2 separate regions of the Homo sapiens genome follow, and region 1 is linked to region 2. A link means that fine-mapping ties the variant in region 2 to the expression of a gene that starts in the linked region. Tissue or cell type: whole blood. Region 2 holds a variant in brackets; the other region holds the start of a gene. All regions are shown on one strand. Distances are between the middles of the regions.

Region 1 (8,068 bases), 330 kb after region 2:
CAGCCCTGCTGCCATGTGCACTGGGGTGGCACTGGAGAGCCATGGCAGTCGTGAGATATTGTATGTGTATGCACATGATCATGTGTGTATGTGCGTGCGTGCGTGCGTGTGTGTGTGTGTGTGTGTTTCTGCCTCATTCAGTTTCTGGGGTCAAATCAGCTCCTTCTCTCCAAGTGCACTACCCTGGAGAGTGGTGGCCACTCAATACCTTTTCCTCTAGCTTTCATGTCTTGTTTTTGCTTTCCCCTTCCTCCTCCCTCTCTCCCTTTCTTTCCTTCTCTCCTTCTTTATTTGAGGGGGGAAGAGTGCTGTACAAAGTCAAACAAACAAGTTTACAGTTGTAAGTGCAATGACCCGAGTCCTCCACATGACCTTGTGAATTGTGTGCTGTCCTTCTGTGCTCTGTGAGAACTCGTGGTACTTCAGTGTCCCTCCCCCTGTATTGTGACAAGGTAATTCTGTGGTATCAGAATAAAAGGACTTGATATAAACAACCTACAGACTGTTTCTGGGATGGTTTCTCAAGTGGGAAGGCTTAGCTGAAGGAGCAAATCCCCAAATTTGCGACAATCCTGTCCATGGTTAAAGGGAAAAGGATGGACAAAGTTGCAGAAGTGCTGGCACAGCACGGGGCTGAGTCCACACCAAGCCATCCAAAGACAATGGGCCCTCCACAAAGGTGCCCAAGGGGAGGTCCCAAGCTTGGACCTGGAGCAGGCAGTCAGTGCGCAGGCTGTTGAGGGACAGCACCTCCATGGCCTTCAGGTGTGTTGGCTGCATACACAGCTTTCTGGGACCTGGTTCCAGGGAGGCAGTGAACAAGTGCTGCCCCCTGGTGCTGCCAACAAGCCCTACACCTCTCTGCCTTGCTCCGAATTTTCCAACCCCCAAACTCTCACCGGCTGCCAGACCTTAGGCCTTCCTCAGATGGTCAGGAGTACCTCCTTACCGAAGTCACCCAGAGTTGCTAGACCTTTTTTTTTTTTTTTTTTTTTTTTAACACAGATAAACAGGAATCCCAGCTTCACCTCTGGCCCTCTCCCCAGAATTAACATTTTGATGCGTGTCCTTCTTTCCTGTTTGTTGTTCCAGTCTTCATTTTAAACAGAAGCCAGAAGGTGCAATATATCCTGTTTTCTAGCTTTCTGTTTATTTCCACGTTTATTTCAGGTACTTAAATGTTCGTCTTCCAGTGCTCAACCTCCAGAGAGATACACCATTAGTTCATAGCCAGTCTACCACACACAATCTAAGGAACAGGCACTATGTTCCCAGTGTTCCTATTATAAACAATGCTTGATGAACATCCTATTTTCCAATCTTTCCACCCAAATTGGTGGCTGGGGCCACTCATTCTACTCCTGTTTCTGGCCTTGATACAGTCCTGTACATACTGACAAATGCAGTGGCGTCAGAAAGTTGGGACTCTTTTTTTTTTTTTTTCTTGAGACGGAGTTTCACTCTTGTTGCCCAGGCTGGAGTGCAGTGGCATGATCTCGGCTCACTGCAACCTCCACTTCCCAGGTTCAAGCGATTCTCCTGCCTCAGCCTCCCGAGTAGCTGGGATTACAGGCGCGTGCCACCCAGCCCGGCTAATTTTTGTATTTTTAGTAGAGACAGGGTTTCTCCATGTTGGCCAAGCTGATCCCGAACTCCTGGCCTCAGGTGATCCACCCGCCTCAGCCTCCCAAAGTGCTAGGATTATAGGCGTGAGCCACCGCGCCTGGCACTTTTTTTTTTTTTTTTTTAAGATGGACTCTGGCTGTCGCCCAGGATGGAGTGCAGTGGCGCGATCTCGGCTCACTGCAAGCTCCGCCTCCCGGGTTCACACCATTCTCCTGCCTCAGCCTCCCGAGTAACTGGGACTACAGGCGCCTGCCACCATGCCCAGCTAATTTTTTGTATTTTTAGTAGAGACAGGGTTTCACCGTGTTAGCCAGGATGGTCTCGATCTCCTGACCTCGTGATCCGCCCGCCTCGGCCTTCCAAAGTGCAGGGATTACAGGCGTGAGCCACCGCGCCCGGCCGGCCGGGACTTTTTTTTTTTTTTTTTTTTTTTTTTTTACTTAACTAGTTATCTTGAGTAAGTAATGATGCGGCTGATGGGAAAGGGGAAGCTACAGGCCAGACAAGTGGACTCTCAATCACAAGCACGCCATGGAGCAGGGAGCCAGGGCCCTGAATGTGGAAGACCAGCCAGACTCAGGTATATGGAGGGAACATCCTTACTGTCCAGCCTCTCCTGATCTCTGTTGGCACCTTAGCCCAGCCAATCCTGTACCACGTGCACAGGGAACCTGCCTGCCTAGGTTTTTTCCACAGGAAGCTCCCTGGTCCTGGGTGGAGTCTGAGCCCACCAGGCCTTTCACACCCAAGAGCTCAGGGTGAGGCCTGGGGAGGAAGGCAGGGACCCACCAGCTCACGGTCCCCAACAAGGTGCCACTGAGAAGGCTGGGTAAAGGCTGCGGGGATAGATAGCTCTTGCGGCAGGCCTGGCGACTGATAAGTCCGGGCAGCACCCTAAGAGTTGGCACCCGCCCCTCTGCCCCGCACCCCAGGGCTTTGCTTCGCGCCCTCCGCCCGGACCCTGGCCCTTCTCTTCTTCGTCTGCGTGGAACTCCCTCCAGGGCAGGGCCTGGCACTGTGTAGTGAATGTCGGCCTCGTGGTGGACCCGAAGGAACCCTACAGTCAGCCCCAGAGCCGCGGGAGATCCACGCTGCGGCCGGCTCCGCCCCGCCCAACCCTCACCCTCACGCTCACGCTCACGCTCACGCTCACGCTCACGCTCACAGGCTCCCGGCTCCACATTCCTCGCAGGGCTCCAATCCGGACCCGCCCGCCTTGCCCTTCATCCTCAAAGACTCATTGGTCCCATTCCCCTCGGGCCCCGCCCTTCGCGTGCTTGGGCCATGCCCGTCCGACCGCGCTGCTTCCGCCTTGCAGCACCCCCTCAACCCCTTCTCTCGTAGGCCCTTCTACCCTCCCCGAAGCCGGGCTCCCGGGTTCCGCTTCCACAGGGCCGCCCCCTCTCCTCCGAGATCCAACGCCTCGCCCCTCGGTAAGAGGCCCAGGACTCAGCCCACGGCCCCGCCCCCCACTTGGCTAGTCCGCCCCTGGCGAGACCCCTGCTCTCACCCACCCAGGACTTCTCGCTCCCAGGCCGGGTCCTCTCACCGTCAAGGCCCGCCCCCTGCCAACGGTCCTCACCCATTAGCCGAAGGCCCCGCCCCTCACAGATTGCCGCAGGGCAGGGGCGGAGACAGCCCGGGCCGTCCCAGGCTCCGCCCCCGGAAGCCTCACTTCCGGGCGCGAGCACGCCCCGCCTCGCCCCGGCGGCAGAGAGGAGACTATGGAACGTCAGGTGAGGGCTCGGCCCGCGGTCCCCGTGGTCCCTGCAGCCCGGGCCGGGCCTGACCCTGGTGTGTCCCCTGCGCAGGTGCTGCTGAGCGAGCCCGAGGAGGCGGCGGCTCTGTATCGGGGCCTTAGCCGCCAGCCCGCGCTGAGCGCCGCCTGCCTGGGCCCGGAGGTCACCACGCAGTACGGCGGCCAATACCGGACGGTGCACACTGGTGTGTGTGCGAAGGGGAACTGGCTGGCGACGGGGTCGCGCACTGGGGTGGGAAGGAAGGGGGTGTGGAGGGCTCGCTGCTTGACAGTGCGTAAGGGTATATAGGGAGCCGGCCTGGACTTGGAGGTTACACTCCCACAGGTCCCTGCACACAGGTGTGTGGAGGGGGGGAGGGGGCGTGCGGGGCGTTATCGAATGGCGGCCATGAGTGCACGAGATGACGGCGTAGGGGTAGAAGTCAAACCTGGGCTCAGGGCGTGGACCTTGTAGGGCTCTCCACCAACACGCCATCCCATACACATGCCAGGCTGCCCTCAAGATTCCAGGGTGGATGCTGGGGTTACTAGGGGGTTCTCTCAAAGAGGCTGTCAGCTCAGGCTCTGGAGGCCTGGACTAGGGTTGTGGCCAAGTGTTGTCCAGCCTGCAGCCAGGGTGTCAGTGTCTGGAGACAGATTGAGAGATTGGGGAAGATAGATCTAGGCCTTCCTGGGTCAGGTGGGGCTGGGGGCAGTAGCCAGGAGTAGCCAAGACAAGGTGAGCAGTCTCATGCCTCCCCTCACAGAGTGGACCCAGAGGGACCTGGAACGCATGGAGAACATTCGATTCTGCCGCCAATACCTGGTGTTCCATGACGGGGACTCAGTGGTGTTTGCAGGACCTGCAGGCAACAGTGTGGAGACCCGGGGGGAGTAAGTTTGAGGGAGGAAGCTTGTGGGCAAGGCCACAGCCGTCCGCAATGCAAGCCTTTTATGAATGCTCACCATGTGCCTAGAAGGGAGGCCAGCAGCCAGGTTCTTGCCCCCTTGGGAGCTCATTCAGTTTCTGGTGACATGGCCTGATAAGCACTGGAAGCTTGCTCCAAACTCAGCCTGGACTAGAGCCCATGGTGGCCTGGGGAGTTGCAGAGAGTAGAGTCTCTGCCTCAGGGAGGAAAGGCAAGGTGGGGCTAGAGGTGCTCCAGAAGCTGGTGTGGGGCCAGAGCCTCAAGAATCTCTCCTAAGAGGTGTGCCCAGTAGGGAGCAGGAAGGGGTTATTGCAAGATAATCCTGACCTGTGCTACCCCATGTCCACAGACTGCTGAGCAGAGAGTCTCCTTCAGGCACCATGAAAGCTGTGCTGCGCAAGGCTGGAGGCACGGGCCCTGGGGAAGAGAAGCAGTTCCTGGAGGTGAGTCTGCATGGGACCAGGTAGTGGGTGACAAGAGAGAGGCTCTGCCCCACAGATAAGGCTCTGTTAGCGGGCAAACAGCCTAATGCCCAGATGTCCTCAGGTCTGGGAGAAGAACCGGAAGCTCAAGAGCTTCAACCTGTCAGCGCTGGAGAAACATGGGCCTGTTTATGAGGATGGTGAGGCATCTGGCTGGTGAGCAGGCAGGGTGGACAGGAGGGGTAGCCGTAGCCCTGGGCCCCCCCTGATTGGCCCTCCCTGCACCCAGACTGCTTTGGCTGCCTGTCCTGGTCGCACTCGGAGACACACTTGTTGTATGTGGCAGAGAAGAAGCGCCCCAAGGCCGAGTCCTTCTTTCAGACCAAAGCCTTGGACGTCAGTGCCAGCGATGATGAGATAGCCAGGCTGAAGAAGCCAGACCAAGCCATCAAGGTGCTCGTGGTCAATCCACGAAGGCCCGGCAGGGCAGCCCTGGGGCTCAGTGTGCTCCCTTCCCATACTGTGCCTGTCAGACCTGGGGAGGCACTAGCTTTTAGGAAGCAGAGCAGGTCCTATAGACAGGCTGGGCATTGAGTATCTTGTGTTCTCAGGGGGATCAGTTTGTGTTTTATGAAGACTGGGGAGAAAACATGGTTTCCAAAAGCATCCCTGTGCTCTGCGTGCTGGATGTCGAGAGTGGCAACATCTCTGTGCTTGAGGGGGTCCCTGAGAATGTGTCCCCTGGACAGGTCAGCAGCAACAGCCTGTGTCCCCCCTGGAGTCTGGGACCCTTCTTGAGCTACCACCCCTTGCTCACTCCTGCCCTTTGATCCTGTTTACAGGCATTTTGGGCCCCTGGAGATGCTGGTGTGGTGTTTGTGGGCTGGTGGCATGAGCCCTTCCGGTTGGGCATCCGCTTTTGCACCAATCGCAGGTGAGGGAGTGGGGCAAGGCAAGGGGCCTTGCAGCCCAGCTGGCCTTGAGACTGAGTGTCTGTCTCGTGGTTCCAGGTCAGCCCTGTATTATGTGGACCTCATCGGGGGGAAGTGTGGTAAGTGGCTGATGCCCACCTGTGCTTTGCTGACACATGTTGGCCCTGCCAGCCTGCGTGATGCTCATGTTTCCATCTGGCCCAGAGCTCCTCTCGGATGACTCCCTGGCTGTCTCTTCTCCCCGGCTGAGCCCAGACCAATGTCGCATTGTCTACCTGCAGTACCCATCTCTGATCCCCCATCACCAATGCAGCCAGCTGTGCCTGGTGAGCTGGAGGTGGCAGGGATGGGAGGGTGGTCAGCAAGAAGATGGGATGGTGGATGAGAGCTGAAGGGCCAGTATCATCTCCCCATAGGCCCTCAGTAGGTGCCCTTCTGTCCTCAATGCAGCAGCGGTGTGAGTTCTGCCTGTCCTCTCAAGGAGGGCCTAGAGGTTGAGAGTGCTGCCATGGAGAGCTTTGCACTGTTGGGGCATTCCACCTTGAGAGAATGCTCGTCTGCAAGAATGCTCCTCCCCTTGGCTCTCAACTGCATGTAGCCAGGCTCTGCAAGGGGCTGGGATATAGTGGGGAGTTACACAATCCCAGACCCTCCCCAGGAAGAGCTCTGGGCCCCTGGTAAAAGTCAGAGGGACATGCCTATCTGAGGCCCCTTGGGCATCTGGTCCAGGTCACCAGAAAAGAGATACATCAGGCTTATTCCAGTTCCCCCATCTCCTGGGGCTACCTGAGGCAAAAGGGGATAGGCACAGGGCACTGTGCCCTAAGGGAACTGCCTGTCCCCTACTGGACCTGACCATTGTGTTCTCTTGCAGTATGACTGGTATACCAAGGTTACCTCAGTGGTGGTAGATGTTGTGCCTCGGCAGCTGGGAGGTAAGGCATACCTGGCTGGGTGGGTGCAGTGGGGCCTGTAGCTCTGCTTTCCTGCCGTCTGTTGCATCCCTGCCCCGTTCTTCTTTCCTAGGTTCCTTCTGAGGGCCCTACCTCCCTGCTGGGCCAGCCTTATGCCCAGCATCCTCAGGGAGCGGGGCTGTCACCATAGGGAGCGGGGCTGTCACCGTAGGGAACAGTTCAATAGCAAGGAGTGGTAGGACCAAGCTGAGATCAGAGTGGCCCAAGTTGATGATGTATTATTTCCTGTGCTGCAGGTCATAATTAGAGTTTTCTTATTTTTCCAATGGCTGGTTCAAACCAAAACCATGACTCCTTCAAGTGGGTCTCAGGAAGTGCACTAGGTTGGAATGTCACACTCGAGAGGCTCTGGACCCGAGGGCATGATATTATCCCATCCACCATCCTAACCCCAGCAACCTTTGTCCAGTCTAAGCCCTGAAGTCAGCTGGGTCTTCAGGAGGGTGGCTCTTGGCTGAGAGGCTCCCGTCTCGAGTGTTGATAGCTCTGCTTGGATCCTCCTGGACCATCTCAAGGATGAGTCTCTTGTTTTCTCAGGCCACCCGGTCAGTTCCAGGAGTTCAGTGGACAAGGGATAGCCTCTTTGTCTTCTCTTTGGGTTGCAGGGATGCAGTGGTGGGAACCTAGTATGAATCCCAGCTCTGCCCTAAATTAGCTGTGTCCTCAGACAGGGTCCTGGCCTCCCTGAGCTCCCATTTCTTCATGGAGGGGTGATTGTGTCTGCCTGCCTCATAGGATCATAGTGAGTGTTAAGTGAGTGATGATATTAAAGGGTAGGATTTACTGAGCCCCCTGTGCCAAGCGCTGTGCTAAGCACCACAGTGGAGATAAGACGGACAGATGATATCTTGGTTAAAGCACCTGGTACCTACCTGGGTTCAACTGGAATTACTCAGGAGAGCAAGTGCTTTTCCTCTGAGCACCCATGGTTTCTCTCTGGAGCTCTTGAGCTCTGCCTCTCTGGGTCCTCTCTGGGTCCCAAGAGGCCTCTGCCCCTCAGCCACCTACTCAGGCAGCTCCTCATCGCGTAGCGTGCCCCCATGTGTGCTACAAGCTGCAGGGGCCTGACTGGTGCCTGAGTAGGGCCCTGGGTGAATTCCCCAGTACCCTAGCCTTCCTTGTAGACTACCCTCCCTACCTCCACTCCTGGATGCAGCCTCAGCCCTCCTATCTTTACAGAGAACTTCTCTGGGATCTACTGCAGCCTTCTGCCTTTGGGATGCTGGTCAGCTGACAGCCAGAGAGTGGTCTTTGACTCGGCTCAGCGCAGCCGGCAGGTGAGGGACGCTGATTGTGTTGAGGGGCAGCCCCTGTGGTCAACCCCCAGGAGCCCTGGGGGTTGCATGTGCATGCCCCTGGGTGGAATGCCCAGCCACAAAGTCTCATCAGCCCCTTAAAACCCTGCCTGCCCATCCTGGACTCATTTCTCCTGGAGGGGACTGGCTGC
Region 2 (8,063 bases):
CAACTTCTGCCCTGTTCCCCAGGGCTCAAGCACTCTGTCCACCTCTGCCTCCCAAAGTGTTGAGATTACACGTGTGAGCCACCACGCTGAGCCGTTTTTTGTTTTGTTTTGTTTTTTGAGACAGAATCTCATTCTGTAGTCACAACTACTTAGGAGGCAAAAAAACCAGGGCCAGGCACGGCTCACTCCTGCAATCCCAGCACTTTGGTAGGCTGAGGTGGGCAGGTCACTTGAGGTCAGGAATTTGAGACCAGCCTGGCCAACCTAGTGAAACCCAGTCTCTACTAAAAACATAGAAATTAGCTGGGCATGGTGGTGCTCGCCTGTAATCCCAGCTACTTGGGAGGCTGAGGCAGGAGAATCACTTGAACCCAGGAGGCGGAGGTTGCCGTGAGCCAAGATCACGCCACTGCACTCTAGTCTGGGCAACAAGAGTGAAACTTCATCTCAAAAAAAGGAAAAAAAAATTTAAAAATTTAAAATAAAACAATTAGCCTGGCATGGTGACGTGCACCTGTAATCCCAGCTATTAAGTAGGCCAAGGTGGGAGGATCTTTTTAGCCCAGGAGTTTGAAGTTGCAGAGAGCTGTGATCCTATGATCGTGCCACTGCACTCCAGCCTGGGTGACAGAGCAAGATCCTGTCTCAAAAATAAAACAAAAAAGAGAACTGGAAACAATGAACATCTGCCTGCGTGTTCCTGTTGTGGTAGTGACCTAGGGACTTGGGAGGAAATGACAAGGGTGACTGATTCAGCTCAGAGACATCTTGGCACCAGAGCTGTGTTCTATGTTGAGCCACTTTATCCTAGAGAGAACCATAGGCCCGGTAGGACACCAAGATCCCAGAAGTGGACAATCCATCCATTACCAGAGGACCTTGGGCCACAAGAACAGAAGAGAAACCAGGAAGGGAGCTAGAAGAAAACCTGGCTTATTGGTCACATACTAGTTGATCTTGGACTGTGATGTCTAATTAAAGATTCATAATGTTGGCCGGGCGCGGTGGCTTACGCTTGTAATCCCAGCACTTTGGAAGGCCGAGAAGGGCGGATCACGAGGTCAGGAGATCGAGATCATCCTGGCTAACACAGTGAAACCCCGTCTCTACTAAAAATACAAAAAATTAGCCGGGCGTGGTGGTGGGTGCCTGTAGTCCCAGCTACTCAGGAGGCTGAGGCAGGAGAATGGCATGAACCCGGGAGGCGGAGCTGGCACTGAGCCAAGATTGCGCCACTGCACTCCAGCCTGGGTGACAGAGCGAGACCCTATCTCAAAAAAAAAAAAAAAAAAAAAGATTCATAATGTCAGGCCGGGCACGGTGGCTCACACCTGTAATCCCAGTACTTTGGGAGGCCGAGGCAGGTGGTTCACCTGAGGTCAGGAGTTTGAGACCAGCTTGACCAACATGGTGAAACCCCATCTCTATTGAAAATACAGAATTATCTGGGCATGGTAGTGCATTCCTGTAGCCCCACCTACTTGGGAGGCTGAGGCAAGAGAATAGTTTGAACCCAGGAGGCGGAGGTTGCAGTGAGCCAAGATTGCACCACTGCACTCCAGCCTGGGCAACAAGAGCGAAACTCCGTCTCAAAAAAAAAGATTAATAATGTCTGGGTGTGTGAACTTTATGCTTTTTTTTTTTTTTTTTTTTTGAAACAAGGTCTTAGTCTGTCACCCAGCCTGGAATGCAGTGGCGCAATCTCCGCTCACTGCCACCTCCGCCTCCTGGGTTCAAGGGATTCTCCTGCCTCAGCCTCCCTAGTAGCTGGGATTACAGGCACCGGCCACCACGCCCAGGTGATTTTTGTATTTTTAGTAGAAACGGGGTTTCACCATGTTGGCCAGGCTGTTCCTGAACTCCTGACCTCAGGTGATCCACCCGCCTCGGCCTCCCAAAGTGCTTGGATTACAGGCTTGAACTACCACGCCTGGCCTTTAAGCTTTATTTTATTCCAAATCATAAGGTTTTTGTCTTAGCTGCTACCACAGTTTTCTTTACACCTGATAGGACTTGGCTCTCCCAAGTTATTCTTGGTCCACACTTGGCCAGCACTAACAGAGCACACGTGGCAGTATTCACAAATATTAGACATATTTTAATTGGAGGTGGCAACAGGGGAGAAATATTTTTGGTTCCTTCTCACCTGTGCCTCCTTAACCTGCCCAGGGGACTGTGAAAAGAAAAAGATTCTAGAAGCACACTTTAGAAGAATTAAATGTCTTCTCAGTGATTTCTAACCTCTGTTATATAAGGATTAGGTTCTTGCAGAAGATAATAGAGGCAAAAAACTGAACAAGTCTCACAGAGAGGAAGTGGGATCACTTTTTTTATATGGAGGAGTTGTGCCAATGGACAGATTCCATTCTGGTTATGCCACTTGTGTTGATGGCCAGCCCTCTTCGGGCAGAGGGTGTGGCAGCCTGGGCCCAGGTGCCGCCAGTGTCTTGTCTTCCTCCTGTAATTCTATTACCATCACAGTCTTAACCATGAACCAGTATTTAACGTTAATTTGCGTGTATCCTTTGCCCTTTCCACAGTGCGAATTCTCAGTAGGCATTTCTTGCATAAATGAAAGAAAGAATGATCCGGCTATTAGTCATTTCTTCACTGGACTAATAGTACTTGAGTATTATGTGCTCATGGTCCCTACCCTCCAGGGTTCACAGTGTGGTTAGGGATGAAGGATGGTTACATATGTAATACAGTATTGTATGTTGTGTGGTAAAAGTGTCACAGGGGCCGGGTGCAGTGGCTCACGCCTGGAATCCCAGCACTTTGGGAGGCTGAGGTGGGCAGATCACGAGGTTAGGAGATCAAGACCGTCCTGGCTAACACCGTGAAACCCTATCTCTACTAAAAATACAAAAAAATTAGCCCGGTGTGGTGGTGGACACCTGTAGTCCCAGCTACTTGGGAGGCTGAGGCAGGAGAATGGTGTGAACCCGGGAGGCAGAGCTTGCAGTGAGCCGAGATCGAGCCACTGCACTCCAGCCTGGGCAACAGAGCAAAACTCTGCCTCAAAAAAAAAAAAGTGTCACAAGAACATGAAGGGTCATGCTTGCAGATACTTCCCTGGGAAGGAAACTTAAGCAACTAGTGTAGAAAGCAAAGGCATACTTAATATTCCTTTTGGCCTTTGGGGGTATATGATGACATCCACAAAGGATGCTCAGGAGACCAGGACTTTATTTTTTATTTTTATTTATTTTTTTAAGACAGAGTCTCACTCTGTCACCCAGGCTGGAGCACAGTGGCGCAATCTTGGCTCACTGTAAGCTCCGCCTCCCGGGTTCATGCCATTCTCCTGCCTCAGCCTCCTGAGTAGCTGGGACTACAGGCACCTGACACCACGCCCAGCTAATTTTTTTTTTTTTTTTGTATTTTTAGTAGAGATAGGGTTTCACTGTGTTAGCCAGGTTGGCCTTGA[A/T]CTCCTGACCTCATGATCTGCCCGCCTCGGCCTCCCAAAGTGCTGGGATTACAGGCGTGAGCCACCCCACACAGCCGACTTTATTTTTTTATTTATTTATTTTTTTTGAGACAGAGTCTCGCTCTGTTGCCCAGGCTGGAGTGCAGTGGCGCCATCTCTGCTCACTGCAAGCTCCGCCTCGCAGGCTCCTGCCATTCTCCTGCCTCAGCCTCCCGAGGAGCTGGGACTACAGGCTCCCGCCACCACGCCCGGCTCATTTTTTGTATTTTGTTTAGTAGAGATGGGGTTTCACCATGTTAGCCAAGATGGTCTCGATCTCCTGACCTGGTGATCTGCCGGCCTCAGCCTCTCAAAGTGCTGGGATTACAGGCGTGAGCCACCATGCCCGGCCTATTTTTTTTATTACTTTTTTTTGTGTGTGTTTGACAGAGTCTCACTTTGTCACGCAGGTTGTAGTGCAGTGGCACAATCTCGGCTCGCTGCAACCTCCACTTCCTGGGTTCAAGCAATTCTCATGCCTCGGCCTCCCCAGTAGCTGGGGACTACAGGCGTGCGCCACCACACACAGCTAATTTTTTTTTGTATTTTTTGTAGAGATGTGGTTTCGCCAGGCCAGGCGTGGTGGCTCACGCCTGTAACCCTATAACTTTGGGAGGATGAGGCGGGTGGATCACCTGAAGTCAGGAGTTCAAGACCAGCCTGGCCAACATAGTGAAATTCCATCTCTACTAAAAACACAAAAAATTAGCCAGGCATGGTGGCAGACGCCTGTAATCCCAGCTACTCAGGAGCCTGAGTCAGGAGAATCACTTGAACCTGGGAGGTGGAGGTTGCAGTGAGACGAGATCACACCACTGCACTCCAGCCTGTGCAACAAGAGCAAAACTCCAAAAAAAAAAAAGAAAAAGAAAAGAAAAAGATATGTGGTTTTGCCATGTTGGATGTTGGCCAGACTGGTCTTGAACTTCTTACCTCAGGTGATCCACCTGCCTCGGCCTCCCAAAGTGCTGGGATTATAGGCGTGAGCCACTGTACCTGGCATGAGACCTGGACTTTAGATTCACTCACATGTACATGCACACACACACAGTCATGTGCTGGGGACAAAGGTGACTGGGGTATTCTGCTGCAGGGAGATTTAGATTCCCTTCACTTGCTTCCCTATGAAGCCAGGTGGTCTTCAGAACTGTAGGACACCACTGAGGGTAAGCTACATGTGTTCCTGAATGCTGCTAGAGCTCTAGGAATTTGGATCAAGTGGGCTTGCTTTGTGGTCTCCTCTACTGGTCTTGAGGGCCACAATTACACTGGACCTGTGAGGGGCACTAAAAGTGGGTCTCCCAGGAGCCTCTGCGTCTCTTCACAGCCAAGATCAGGTCACCTGCCCTTACATTTACAACAGGTAAGGCTGGCTAGGAAAATATTCTGCCAGCCAGTTAGGGCCAACAAGTTGCCTAGCACCCCTGCCCAGTACACCACTGTCATGTCATGTCAGTCTCAATGCTTCTAGATGCAACTAACAGAATCCCCAGCAGCAATTGGCCCACCTATTTGGTGGTTCTTGTTTTTTCACATGACACGTCTGGAGTTGAGTTCTTGGGAAGGTCAAAGCTGAAAGACATCAGTTTGTTTATCTGGGGCCTTCTAGTTCTTTGCCTTCAAAGCTCCAACGTGGCTGCCTTGCTCCCAGAATTTTGGGTACCCTCAACAACACCCACCAGTGAGAAGGGAGAGAGGAAACAAGATCCTGTTTCCTGGGATCATGGGGGCTTTCCCAGGAGCCTCTGCATCTCTTCATAGCCAAGATTAGGTCACCTGCCCCTATCTTTACAGCAGGAAAGTAGATTCTGCCAGCCAGCCAGGAGGAAGGACTTGGGAATGGCTGTTGAGTAGAGATAAGCAATGTCTCTGTACACAGCCTCTCTGAGAGGCAGTGAGAATTACACCATTTCAGGGCCAAGGCCTATGAGACCTCATTTCTTGGACAAGGACTTCTGACATTTGTCCCCCTCAGCTCCCAATCAGTCAGTGTCTGATGTGAGGCAGATACCCATTAATCTCTGTGGCTGGCTGGAGCTGGGCTTTATTTCAGTGCCCGCCCAGGTGTGTCACACCTGTATGTGAATGCATACTCTTCCCGCTTACTTCGTGAGTGCAGTAACAAAAACATGTCAATTCAGAGTACTCTGATAGGGATCATGGCCTGCTCTTTATAAACCCATGCTGTGTTTTCTTGGGAAAAAAATTTTTTTTTTTTTTTGAGACAGGGTCTGTCTCTGTTGCCCAGGCTGGAGGGCAGTGGCACAATCTCAGCTCACTGCAACCTCCGCCTCCTGGGTTCAAGCGAGTCACCCACCTCAGCCTCCCAAGTAGCTGGGACTACAGGCACACGCCACCATGTGCGACTAATTTTGTTTCTGTTTTTGAGATGGAGTCTCACTCTGTCACCTAGACTGGAGTGCAGTGGCACAATCTTGGCTTCTGCAACCTCGATCTCCCAGGTTCAAGCAATTCTCCTACCTCAGCCTCCCAAGTAGCTGGGATTACAGGAGGGCACCACTATGCCCAGCTAATTTTTGTATTCTTAGTAGAGATAGGGTTTGACCATGTTGGCCAGGCTGATCTCAAACTCCTGACCTCAAATGATCCGCCCGCCTCACACTCGTCTAATTTTTGTATTTTTTGGTAGAGACAAGGTTTCACCATGTTGGCCAGGTTGGTTTTTTGGGGGGTTTTTTGTTTGTTTATTTTGAGACAGCCCAGGCTGGAGTCGCACAGGCTGGAGTGAAGTGGCACAATCTCAGTTCACTGCAGCCTTGACCCTCTGGGCTCAAGTGATTCCCCCCACCTCAGCCTCCTGAGTAGATGGGACTACAGGTACATGCAACCATGCCTGGCCCCTTGGGGAGATCTTTAGCCAGTACTTTTTACTCTATCTTATCCAAAAGTTAAAATGTAAGAGATTTATTAGACTTATCAGGCCAGGAATGCTTTTCTGAAAATAAACTTGTTTTATTTATTTTGAGACAGGGTCTCACTCTGTCTTCCAGGCTGGAGTACAGTGGCGCAATCAGCTCACTGCAGCCTCGATCTCCTGGGCTTAAGCAATGTTCTGACCTCAGCTGCCCAAGTAGCTGGCTGGTACCACAGTCATGTGCCACAAAGCTTGGCTCTTTTTTTTTTTTTTTTTTTTTTTGAGACAGAGTCTTGCTCTGTTACCCAGGCTGGAGTGCAGTGGCCCAATCTCAGCTCACTGCAACCTCCACCTCCCAGGTTTAAGCGATTCTCCTGCCTCAGCCTCTGGAGCAGCTGGGACTATAGGTGCACACCACCATGCCCAGCTTATTTTCGTATTTTTAGTAGAGACGGGGTTTCACCATATTGGCTGGACTCCTGACCTCATGATCCACCCGCCTTTTCCTCCCAAAGTGCTGGGATTACAAGCATGAGCCACCTTGCCTGGCCAGTATTTTTTTGTAGAAACAGTGTTTCGCCATGTTGCCCAGGCTGTTCTCAAACTCCTGAGCTCAAACAATCTGCCCACCTTAGCCTCCCAAAGTGCTTGGATTATAGGTGTGAGCCACTGCACTGAGCCTGAAAATAAACTTGTTTTAAATGTTGTTTTTAGGACTACGTTGAGTCAGAATAAGGAAGTCATTTGATCAACTGCTAATTGTGCAAGAAATGCCTGACCTAATTTTATCAGATTTAATGTTTGAAAAAAAACCCCAAAAGCAGCCCTTCTGTAAGAACTGCTGAAATGGAAGTTTCTGAACCTAGGTCAGTGGCCTAAATGCTGTATGTGTTTTCTGTGCAAGCAATGCTCTGCAGCCATTTCTGCTTTTAAAGCCAGGACTTCACATAGGCTGAATGTGATTTCTACTCTTTTACTTGTTTATTTGAGCTGCTGATTCACAATGGGGTGGGGTGGGTACCAGTCAGAGCAGCAGCAGTTGCATGGTTGAATGAAAAGAATGTGTATGTGTGAGAGTGTGTCTGTGTGTGTTGGGGGAAGACAGTGAAGTCTTAACTGGCTTTACTCTGAAACTTCCTGGAGAAGAGAGAGTTAGAAAGGACTGGCCGGGCATGGTGGCTCACGCCTGTAATCCCAGCACTTTGGGAGGCCCAGGTGGGTGGATCATTTGAAGTCAGGAGTCCAAGACCAGCCTGGCCAACATGGTGAAACCCTGCCTCTACTAAAAATACAAAAAAATTAGTCTCGGGTACTCAGGAGGCTGAGGCAGGAGAATTGCTTGAACCCGGGAGACAGGTTGGAGTGAGCTGAAATTGCACCACTGCATTCCAGCCTGGGCAATAGAGCGAGACTCCCTGTCAAAAAAAAAAAAAGAAAGAAATGACTTCTAGTTGAGAGAGGAGGCATACAGCTTAAAGTCTGAGGAGAAATGTTCTCCAGCCAGGATCAGGCATACTGGGAGTTCAGAAGTTCCCTTTACTGAAGCTGAGTAATTTCAGGGGAAACCAAAAAAAGTTCCCTTCACTCGTAGTCCAAGGCATAAACTGAGATGGTGGGGGTGGCATGGGGCAAGGAGGGGTCAATCACCAGGCATCCTGGAGAGAAGTTGGAGTTTATTGGAAAGTTCTGGGTTCCTATCCTGTAGCCTAACCAGAGAGT

What was found. PIP is the estimated chance that this variant, and not a neighbour inherited with it, causes the effect.
Region 1: APEH starts here. The variant in region 2 is fine-mapped to the expression of APEH in whole blood (TOPMed, PIP above 0.99).

Annotation. Positions count from the first base shown.
Region 1 is chr3:49,671,052-49,679,119 of GRCh38, forward strand. It overlaps APEH (acylaminoacyl-peptide hydrolase), which reads left to right and starts at 3,300. Exons shown (of 22, transcript NM_001640.4): 1 at 3,300-3,362; 2 at 3,438-3,570; 3 at 4,132-4,258; 4 at 4,643-4,736; 5 at 4,840-4,915; 6 at 5,005-5,168; 7 at 5,327-5,464; 8 at 5,558-5,649; 9 at 5,726-5,766; 10 at 5,852-5,973; 11 at 6,522-6,582; 12 at 7,801-7,898. The coding sequence starts at 3,351. BSN (bassoon presynaptic cytomatrix protein) reads left to right here. Exons shown (of 12, transcript NM_003458.4): 12 at 1-498. RefSeq lists a silencer at 2,985-3,594.
Region 2 is chr3:49,344,554-49,352,616 of GRCh38, forward strand. No RefSeq gene overlaps it. Among named protein-coding and RNA genes, the nearest start is that of USP4, 8.5 kb to the left of the region's middle. RefSeq lists enhancers at 862-981, 1,072-1,161, 5,249-5,393, 7,907-7,986, a silencer at 4,363-4,657 and a cis regulatory region at 5,313-5,330. The variant A/T (reference allele first, on the strand shown) is at 3,431.